Linked DNA regions of Homo sapiens: region 2 is linked to region 1. Evidence: fine-mapped expression QTL. A gene starts in region 1. The other region holds a variant in brackets. All regions are shown on one strand. Distances are between the middles of the regions.

Evidence for each region. PIP is the estimated chance that this variant, and not a neighbour inherited with it, causes the effect.
Region 2: its variant is fine-mapped to the expression of TIMP1 in whole blood (TOPMed, PIP above 0.99).

Annotation. Positions count from the first base shown.
Region 1 is chrX:47,579,975-47,585,352 of GRCh38, forward strand. It overlaps TIMP1 (TIMP metallopeptidase inhibitor 1), which reads left to right and starts at 2,462. Exons shown (of 6, transcript NM_003254.3): 1 at 2,462-2,500; 2 at 3,434-3,562; 3 at 4,962-5,041; 4 at 5,231-5,357. The coding sequence starts at 3,442. All of the region lies in intron 5 of SYN1 (synapsin I), which reads right to left. RefSeq lists silencers at 2,110-2,259, 2,320-2,419.
Region 2 is chrX:47,604,467-47,609,844 of GRCh38, forward strand. SYN1 (synapsin I) reads right to left here. Exons shown (of 13, transcript NM_006950.3): 2 at 2,675-2,732; 3 at 2,479-2,570; 4 at 757-913; 5 at 512-601. Among named protein-coding and RNA genes, the nearest start is that of SYN1, 13 kb to the right of the region's middle. The variant G/A (reference allele first, on the strand shown) is at 3,150.

The sequences.
Region 1 (5,378 bases):
AACTCACAGGGATATTGTGAGAAATAAGTTAGTTATTTTGGGAAAAATGCTCTACATGGTATCGGGCATACAGTAAGCCTCGATCCTCAAGAAGTGTTGGGTACTCTTATTATTGGCTTAACATCTCTTCCTTAACTAACATTAATGAACAAAGAGGCAATCGGGATTGATTAAATGAGATAATGTCTGTAAAAAGACTTTAGAACAGTGCTTTTTTTTTTTTTTTTAAATAGAGACAGGGTTTCACCATGTTGCCCAGACTGGTCTTGAACTCCTGAGCTCAAGCGATCTGCCTGCCTCAGCCTCCCAAAGTGCTGGGATTACAGGTGTGAGCCACCATGCCCGGCCAAGTGCTTTCTTAAAAAATAGATTTAGGCTGGGTGCCGTAGCTCACGCATGTAATCGCAGCACTTTGGGAGGCTGAGGTGGGCGGATCACCCGAGGTCAGGAGTTTGAGACCAGCCTGGCCAACATGGTGAAACCCCGTCTCTACTAAAAATACAAAAATTAGCCAGGCGTGGTGGCGTGTGCCTGTAACCCCAGCTACTGAGGAGGCTGAGGCAGGAGAATTGCTTGAACCCAGGAGGTGGAGGTTGCAGTGAGCCAAGATCTTGCCATTGCACTCCAGCCTGGGAAACAAGATCGAAACTCTGTCTAAAAAAAAAAAAAAGATTTAGAAGGCCGGGTGTGGTGGCTCACGCCTGTAATCCCAACACTTTGGGAGGTCGAGGCAGGTGGATCACCTGAAGTCAGGAGTTCGAGATCTGACCAATATGGTGAAACCCCCGTCTCTACTAAAACTACAAAAATTAGCTGGGGGTGGTGGTGGTGTGGCTGTAATCCCAGCTACTCAGGAGGCTGAGACAGGAGAATCTCTTGAACCCCGGAGGCGGAGGTTGCAGTGAGCTGAGATCGCGCCACTGCACTCCAGCCTAGGTGACAGAGCAAGACTCTTGTCAAAAAAAAAAAATAGATTTAGAGGGTACAGCTGCAGTTTTGTGACATGGATATATTACATAGTGGTGAAGTCTGGGCTTTTAGTGTCCCCATCAACCAAATAGTGTACATTGTACCCATTAGGCAATTTCTCATCCCTCACATTCCTCCCACCCAGAATAGTGCTGGATACGCAGTAAGCACTCCATAAGGGCTGCTGGTAGTTTTTGTTGTGTTCTTGTTATTGGGCTATCATCCCTGAGTTAATCAAACTTAATTAGCAAGGGAGTATGGTGAGTGAATGAGATAATTTATACAAACACTTTAGCACATAGTACACAGAAAGTGCTCAATAAGTGGCTGCCATCATCACTACAATTATTATTATTGATCTATCCTCCTCGAATTAAGGATGTTAATCAGAACCCCAGGGAAGGTTCCTGCATTGTCAGAAAGCTGGTGGGCAAGGATTGCCCCACCCCACCCCCCACCAGGGGTACAGGTCCATGGGGAGGGGGCAGGGCAGGATGGGGTGGGGATTAGTTTTCTACTGACCCACTCACTTGCTTCTTTCACCATCATTCATGGCCACCCCCTTCCCAATGCTCATTCATTCACCCGCACCATTCCCTGCTTGCTAGGACGGTGCCACTCCTGAGTTACAACCCTGGTGCCAGGTAGCCTCTGTTTGAATCCCGGCCATGCCCTGTGATCTTAGGAAAATTCTACAGTTCCTCTACGCCCCATATTTCCTCATCCGTAAAACGGGAATAAGAACCGGTACCCATCTCAGAGATTTGTTGTGAGCTTTGAGTGAGATAAACTATGCTGAGTGCCTGGTATACAGTAGGTGCTGTATAAATGCCGGCTATTTGCCTGTGTTATTTGAGACCCTGGCTTTGGCTCCTGGCCACCTGAGTTCCAGTCTCAGTTCTGCCATGTATTGACTCTGTGATCCTGGGTAAGTCACTTAACCACTCCGTGCCTCAGTTTCCCCATTTTGTATTCCTCCCCTTTCACCTGCCTTATCTCCCTCCACTGCTGCTACTTAATTTGTTTCCTCTCTGCCACCCCTCACCAGCATGTCAGACATACAAAACAAGGGATTTTTGTGTGCTTGGCACACAGTAGATGCACAATAAATGTTGAAGGGCTGAACTAATTTGGGTTTGAGTCATAGGGAGCTTGGGGGATGTGGGTGATTGGATAGATTCTGGAGACTTTAGGGGACTGGGCCGGGGGAAATGCGGCCTCTAAGCTCTCCGCTGAGGCGGCTTGGAAGGAATAGTGACTGACGTGGAGGTGGGGGAGGTGGCTGGCCCGGGCGAGGCCCAGGGAGAGGGAGAGGAGGCGGGTGGGAGAGGAGGAGGGTGTATCTCCTTTCGTCGGCCCGCCCCTTGGCTTCTGCACTGATGGTGGGTGGATGAGTAATGCATCCAGGAAGCCTGGAGGCCTGTGGTTTCCGCACCCGCTGCCACCCCCGCCCCTAGCGTGGACATTTATCCTCTAGCGCTCAGGCCCTGCCGCCATCGCCGCAGATCCAGCGCCCAGAGAGACACCAGAGGTAAGCAGGGCCCGGGGTGGCCCAGCAGGGACCGGAGCTGGGCTGCAGCTTGGGTGCTGGCCACCAGGCCCGTGCACTCCCGTGCCAGATGCCTGTCTACTCAGCTTGGCCTGCGGGTACCAGGACCCTGGGCTAGTCTAGGGGGAAGAGGGTCGGAGGCTGGAACTGCTTTCCCAACCCCGAGGCTCCAAACTCCCTAGAACCCCTGACATCCGCCCCCAATTCCCCCAAACCCATGACCCCCTAATATCACAAATGCTTTCCAAATCCCCCCGCAAATTCCTTCATCCCGAAATTTCCCTCATCGCCCCCTAAATACCCACCGCTAACCCCTGCAGCTCCCTAAACTCCCCCAGCTCCCCAATCCCCAGTTCCCCAGCTCCCAAACTTCTTTTGCCCTCAAATTCCTCAAGTATCCCCATTGCCTTAAGCCCCCAAATTCCCCCAACCCCTTCAACCTCCAAACTCCCCCAGCTCCCTAAACCCCCAACCTCCTCCAAATTCCTCAACCTCCCTAAATTCCCCCAGCCTCTTATATCTCTTAATATACACAACCCCTAAACTCTGCCGTCTCCAAACTCCTCCAGCCCCCAATCCCAAATTCCTCACCCCCAAACTCCTCAACCTCCAGAATTCCCCAATCCCCTCATTCCTCAAACTTCCTCAGCCCCCTTCTCCCCCAAGTGCCACAACCCCATAACCCCGCAACTCACTCAGTCCCTCAATAATTTAAACTCTCCCAACTCTCTAAACCCTAAATTCCTCTGCGCTCCCCAATCCCCTTAAAATCCCTAAGCTTACCAACCCCTCAAGCCCAAATCCAGCCCCCTAATCCCCCCCATAGGCTGCCCCGGGGCAAGATGGGGTGGATGACCTGCCCAGGTCAGCAGATCAGCTGGGCCGGGGCCTGCCTGACATCCCCCTTCCCCACAGAACCCACCATGGCCCCCTTTGAGCCCCTGGCTTCTGGCATCCTGTTGTTGCTGTGGCTGATAGCCCCCAGCAGGGCCTGCACCTGTGTCCCACCCCACCCACAGACGGCCTTCTGCAATTCCGACCTCGGTGAGTCCTCACCCCACTCAGCCCACACACTCTGCCTTGGTTTCCCTTTCAGTCCAGTGGGGCTCACCATGGCACTTACCTCTAGAATGATTCCACTCGCCCCTGCACTTCCTCTGCTTTAGCCACACTGGCATCCTCACACTTCCTTGAGTACTCTGTGCCCAAGCCCACCACAGGATCTGCATGCTGGCTGCTCCCTCTGCCTGGTACACTTTCCCCCCAGGTATCCACATGGGTGGCTGCCTCAAACGTCACCTTCTCAGGATGGCCTTCCCTGGCCATCCTGTTTAAAATTTTAACCCCTGCCCCTTAGTACTCCTGATCTCCTGTTAAACAGAAAAATATTCAGTGATACTTGTTATAACACAGTAAGGAAGACCATATTCAGGACCATGGTGATGGGTATAGGAACCACTGCAATGGGATCTTGCAGTCGGTGGGAGAGATTGGGCTCAACACTGAATATAGCATGGGCCAGTGGGAATGTGTAGCTAAGGAGCAGTGTGAGGGTCTGTGGGTGGAAATTACTAAGAAGAAACATCAGGGGTAAGGGGGATTCTGGCTAAACCGACGTAACAGGATTCTTGCTGAAGGCAGGCCAAGGGGAATCAGACATCACCTGGGGGATGGTGGAAGATGAAGAACCCAGTCAGATAGCAAGGATGATCAGGTATTGAGGATGATCAGAGATTGAGGATGATCAGAGATTGAGGATGATCAGGTATTGAGGATGATCAGAGATTGAGGATGATCAGGTATTGAGGATGATCAGAGATTGAGGATGATCAGGTATTGAGGATGATCAGAGATTGAGGATGATCAGATATAGAATATAGGGGTTCTTGCTAAACTGACTTAGCAAGGCTCTCGGCTAAAACTGGATTTTACAAGGAAGTGCACAGATGGGCCTAGGAGGAGGTTCAGGAGCCTGAGTAAAGTTTGGTCAAGCAAAGAATCTTTGTCAGCCCCTTACCCAGGTCTGTAATTCCCCATTATACTTAATGTCTAACATTCCATATCCTTATTTTGTTTGTTCTTAGCCTGTCTCCTCCTGGCTAGAATGTGAACTCCACAAGGAAAGGGATTTCTGTGTTTTGTTCACTGTTGTGTCCCTAACACCCAGAACAATGTCTGGCACACAGTGGGCACTCCCAAATATTTGAGGAGTAAATGAACAAATCAATGTATGAAAATGGCTTAAGCAGTGCCCGGCAAAGAGAGACACTCAACATACAGATGAATCAATGAACAAATGTGTAAATCACTTTGTGTGCTGTCTGGCATCCAATAACCCCTATTTATGTATGCGCTTTGCTGGTATGATGATGATGATGATGATGATCTTATTTTTATTGGCTCATGCAGTCCATTTGACTCATATTTCCCTCCTCTCCTGCAGTCATCAGGGCCAAGTTCGTGGGGACACCAGAAGTCAACCAGACCACCTTATACCAGCGTTATGAGATCAAGATGACCAAGGTATCCCCTGCCCCCGCCTCTTTCCCAGCATTTTCTAACATCTTCCTCCTGGTCAAAACAGAAACTTCTGGCCACTGGTTGGTGCGAGAAAGTTGGCTGTGATCTTGGGATGCTATATGACTTCAGGGAAGAACCTGGAGTGGGAGGATTATGTCAGTAAAAGAGACACTTCCCCTCATCCATCAACAGATGTATAAAGGGTTCCAAGCCTTAGGGGATGCCGCTGACATCCGGTTCGTCTACACCCCCGCCATGGAGAGTGTCTGCGGATACTTCCACAGGTCCCACAACCGCAGCGAGGAGTTTCTCATTGCTGGTGAGGCACCGTCCCCGCGCC
Region 2 (5,378 bases), 24 kb after region 1:
GGTCTTGATCTCCTGACCTCATGATCTGCTCACCTCAGCCTCTCAAAGTGCTGGGATTACAGGCATGAGCCACCGTGCCTTGCCAACAATTTAATTTATAACATTATTATTGATAAATGTTATTGGCAATCCTAATTTGAATATAGGTAAAATTTCTATCAGAAGGAATATTTGATAATGTTAGTAATAATGACTTAATTTCTATATGTAATATATTCTGATTCATTACATTAATTCTGTCAATTCACATTAGAAATAGGTTTTTAATACTGGCAAAAATAGACAACATGAGTAACAGGATCTGATACATATTAGAATGGATCATGATTTAGTTTTCCTTGTAAGCATAAGGAAATTCACGGTAGACCCTATCACAAAGCAACTTCATGACTCCACGTGCACACAGCAGCCACACTCTTGATATCGCACTGCTGATAATATACCAATATTTAATATTATTGCAGTAGTTATGACTCTTCCCTCCTGCCCACTCTATTTTCCCCAAACTCACCATTTCTTTGTGATTGGGGTAGAAGGTCTGATCAATTAGAGGGAATTCTTCTGTCCCCAGTTTCTTATGCAGTCGAACCATCTGGGCAAACTATGAGAACCAGGAGAGCTGGGTCAGTGAGTCCTTCACCACGAATCTGTAAGTTTCTGAACACCCTCACTTCCCCAAATCGCAGACTGGTTTCAAGCTCCCACATACATGCATGAGCTGTTCCCTCTGCCAGTGGCACCCTTCCTGTTACTTACCACCCAGGGCTTGTCACAGAAGTTGTAGACAGAATGCAAGGAGTTAACACTGGGGATTCCAGCATACTGCAGCCCAATGACCAAACTGCGGTAGTCTCCGTTGCGTGCCATGCTGAAGGCGTGCTGGCGGATCAGCACAAAATCCGGCTTCAGAGACCTAGTGTGGCAGGGGTAGGAGTGTTGAGAGTTCCCCCAGAAGCTCCCAATCACTCTCGAAACAAAGACCAAGTTTTTAAATCTCCATAGCTCCCAGAAATTGCAAAGTGGTTTCTCACCTCTGCACACATGTGTGAGCTGTTCCCTCTGCCTAGTGCACCCTTTCTACCCTCTGCCCACCTGGTGATCCCCTTTAAGCCTCTCCTACCTGTTCCCTTCTCAGCAAGGTCAGCTTGCAGCTTACCGACACAGCTCTGACAACTCCCTGGTCACCATCTCTCAGACTGCAAGCTGTCTTCAGTGTTCTGCCCAGAATAAATTCTAACCTTGGGACCTTTACCAAGGCTGTTCCATCTGCCTAAAGCACTTCCCCCCTAGATATCTGCATGGATCACTCCTTCACCTCCATCAGGTCTTTCCTCAAATGTCTCTCCTGCAACCAGGCCACCCTATCCCAACTGCAGACCCCACCATCATCCAACAATTGCTACATCTGCTTTAGTGCTATATATATATTTTTTTCTTTTTTTTTTTTCTGTTGAGACGGACTGTTGCTCTGTTGTCCAGGCGCTGGAGCAATCATGGCTCACTGTAATCTCCGCCTCTCGGGTTCAAGCGATTTCCCTGCCTCAGCCTCCCGAGTAGCTGGGATTACAGGCACCTGCCACCACGCCTGGCTAATTTTTTTATTTTTAGTAGAGACGGGGTTTCACCATGTTGGCCAGGCTGATTTTGAACTCCTGGGCTCAAGCAATCCACCCACCTTGGCCTCCCAAAGTGCTGGGATTATAGGCATGAGCCACCACATCCGGCCACTGTTATGTTTTTTCTTAGCACTTTTACATTTTCTTATTTATTTGTGTATTGTGTGTATCTCACAGTAGAATGTAAGTTTCATAAGGCCCAGGTTCTTTTTCTTTTTTTTTTTTTGGCCTTTCAGCATGTAGAATATCTCCTGGCACACAGTAGGTGTACAATAAATATTTATTGAATATGAAGTCCTGAGAGCAGCATCTGGCATGCAGCAGATGTCTAGCAAATGTTTATTTAATTAATAATTGAAGGCTGGGTGTGGCGGCTCATGCCTGTAATCCCAGCACTTTGAGAGGACAAGGCAGGTAGATTGTTTGAGCCCAGAAGTTTGAGACAAACCTGGGCAACATAGTGAGGACCCCCCCCATCTCTACAAAAAACATAAAAATTAGCTAGGCATGGTGGTGCGCACCTGTAGTCTCAGCTACTTGGGAGGCTGAGGTGGGAGGATCACTTGAGCCTGAGAGGTTGCAGCTGCAGAGAGCCATGATTGTGCCAGTGCACTCCAGCCTGGGAGACAGAGCAAGACCCTGTCTGAAATATATATATATATATATATATTTTTTTTTAAAGTCTGACTTGTGGCATCCTGGGGTCCCTGGCTCTTTTTCTGAAGAAAAGTTGTCTCCCCACATTCCATGCCTAAGTTCTTGCCCACAGAAGGATGGGTGGGGAGGTAGGAACTTTCCCCCAGCTCTAAGGGAGAGTTCTTATGCCTTGCTCATAACACCAAGGTACCCTTCTTATACTCACCGCACGACCTTCACCCCATTCCGAAGAACTTCCATATCCACAGAGAATCCACCATTGGCATGGGCCACAAGGTTGAGATCAGAGAATTCGGCCTGGGAAGGAGAAAAAAACTGGTGATTCACCTACATCACACAAAAATGGCCACTCAGTTTGCAGTATGGACAACTGACCCCCAGGTCCAAATGTCCCAACTTACCTGTTCTACTTTAATGTCAATTTCTCCATGGATCTTTTTCCCTTTGAAGTATTTTGCCCTGGAGAGGAAAAACAACACATCTGTCAATGATGAAATCTCAGAAGGGAAGACAAAACACAGGCCCTTGACCCTTTTGCCCCTTCAATGCTACTAAAGAAACCACAAAGTGCCTTATAATTATTGAAATATTTTGAAAAAATCAAGAGTGCTTTGTGAATAATGTCTGTTGTAATCCTCATGGAGTTGCAAAAATATTAAAGGACATTGCAAACTGTAAAATGTGGCCTTACACTGCAGAGAGCAGGTATTTCCCAAAATTTAGTCTGCTCATCACATTGTCATTGTAAATTTTTTAAAAAAACTTCACAAAATTAGCAGCACTATGTAAATTAGAACATACTTTGAAATTGCATGGAGACCGGTAAACAGCAAAGAACCTTAGAAAACACCTATCTGGCCAGGTACGGTGGCTTAC[G/A]CCTGTAATCTCAGCACTTTGGGAGGCTGGAGGTAGGAGGATTGCTTCAGGCCAAGGGTTGGAGACCACCCTGGACAATATAGAGAGACCCCCATCTCTACAAAAAAAATTGAAAAAAAAAAAAAAAAAACAAAAGCCGAGGGCTGTGGCTCACGTCTATAATCCCACAACTTTGAGAGGCCAAGGCGGGTGGATCACCTGAGGTCAAGAGTTCGAGACCAGCCTGACCAACATGGTGAAACCCCTTCTCTACTAAAATACAAAATTAGCCAGGTGTAGTGGTGCATGCCTGTATTCCCAGCTACTTGGGAGGCTGAGGCAGGAGAATCACTTGGACCCAGGAGGCGGAAGTTGCAGTGAGCCAAAATGGTGCTATTACACTCCAGCCTGGGCAACAAGAGCGAGACTCCATCTCCAAAAAACCCAAAAAACAAAAACTAGCCAGGCATAGTGGTGCATGCCTGTAGTCCCAGCTACTGGGGAGGCTGAGGCAGGAGAATGGCTTGAGCCCAGGAGGTCGAGGCTGTAGTGAGCCGTGATTGCACCACTGCACTCCAGCTTGGGGAACAGAGCAAGACCTAGGCAAAAAAGAGAAAGAAATAAAGAGAAAGGAAGGAAGGAAGGAAGGAAGGAAGGAAGGAAGGAAGGAAGGAAGGAAGGAAGGAAGGAAGGAAGGGGAAGGAAGGAAGGGGAAGGAAGGAAGGAAGGAGAGAAAGAAACTACATTTCTCTGAAGCGTGCCTGTTTTTGTGTATTTTTTAGTGCCTGTGTATATGTCAGTGCCTGTGTCTGGCTGTGTGGCCTGAAGCATCTCTCTGCTCTCTGGCCCTTTCGCAAGGAGGAGCACATTCACCATGTGTGGTTGTGTGCTGTGAGAAACACAATGGCCATAGGTGGGCAGCTGCATCCGATAAGGAGGAGTGGATTGAGTGGTGCAGGCTGGGTGGCTCTAGAGAAGCCAGTGTAGCTGGCAATGATGGGGGGCAGGGAGGAATGCAGCTGAGGAGGAGAGGGAGCAACAGGAGGGAGGGGGAGTGGGAGCAGCAGTAGGAACATCACGAACTGCTATGTCATTGTCCCCGGGCCCGTCCCCAGCTGGGCTTGGTTTCCGGTGGCCTCCTCCCCCAGGCTCAAGATTTCTAGCCAACAGGCTGCTTGCTCCAGGGATGGAAGCTCATCCTCAATCAGGTTTATCATGGAAGGGGGATGAGGGGGAGAGACACTTTCAGGGCTACTGGTCACTGACACACATACAATCAGGGTCTTGGACAGACACACACACACACACACACACACACACACACACACGGCACAAATGGACCCTGGTGACTTGACTGACATATGCAAGAGACCCCAAGTACAGCTACTTCTTTTTCCTTGCTCTCTCTCTGACACACACACACACACACACACACACACACACACCATCGCTGACACTATCCCCTCAGAAGTGTTGAGAGAGAATCTCTCTCAGCCCTGCACATTTTTCATCTATAAACTGATGAGTGGGGATGATGAGGGTGTATCACTGTTTCTAAAACTTTTCTGACCATAAGTGTAGTTGGATACTGTGGTGGTCTGCTCAGGCCTCCTCTTCAGGGACAATGTACCTTGAATGGCAGCTACTGACAGCTCATGGCTGTGTCCCCACTGGGAATTGTCTTGTCACAGGGAACTGCCTTGTCCAAGGTTACACCTACTTCATGAGGGCATCCCCATGGTCTGGTCTATGAAGGGAAAGAAAGGCCAGCCTCCTTGCCTCAATCTGGGCTGACTCTGAAGGACCCTCCCAGCCCCAGGGCTCCCCCTAAGAGCAGCGGAGGCCCCTAAGGCAACTACATCTTGAGCCAGCCTCTTCCTCTGCTCAACCCAACCCTCCTCACAAGTGTTGATCCCAATGGCACACTCCAGTAAGCCTCCTGCATGCAAATCTCCACCTCAAAGTCTTTTTCCAGGGAACCCAACCTAAAACAGTGGGCCATGGAAGTCAAACTACAAGGGTGGTCTAATGCAATTCTGGAGCTGGGTTACCCAGCAGCCAGATGGCAGTGAGGACCCATCAGTAGTGGGAGGTGGGGCATAGATAGCCTCCGATATGCTGTAGCAACGCAAAGTGCTCTGCAGCAGGTCCGGGCTGTGGTGCAAGCAGGATGTGACTTAGGCCATATGATCCAGCAGATCCTATGACACTGGAGGTGTCAGTAGTAGGAAAAGATGCTGTGTGGAATTT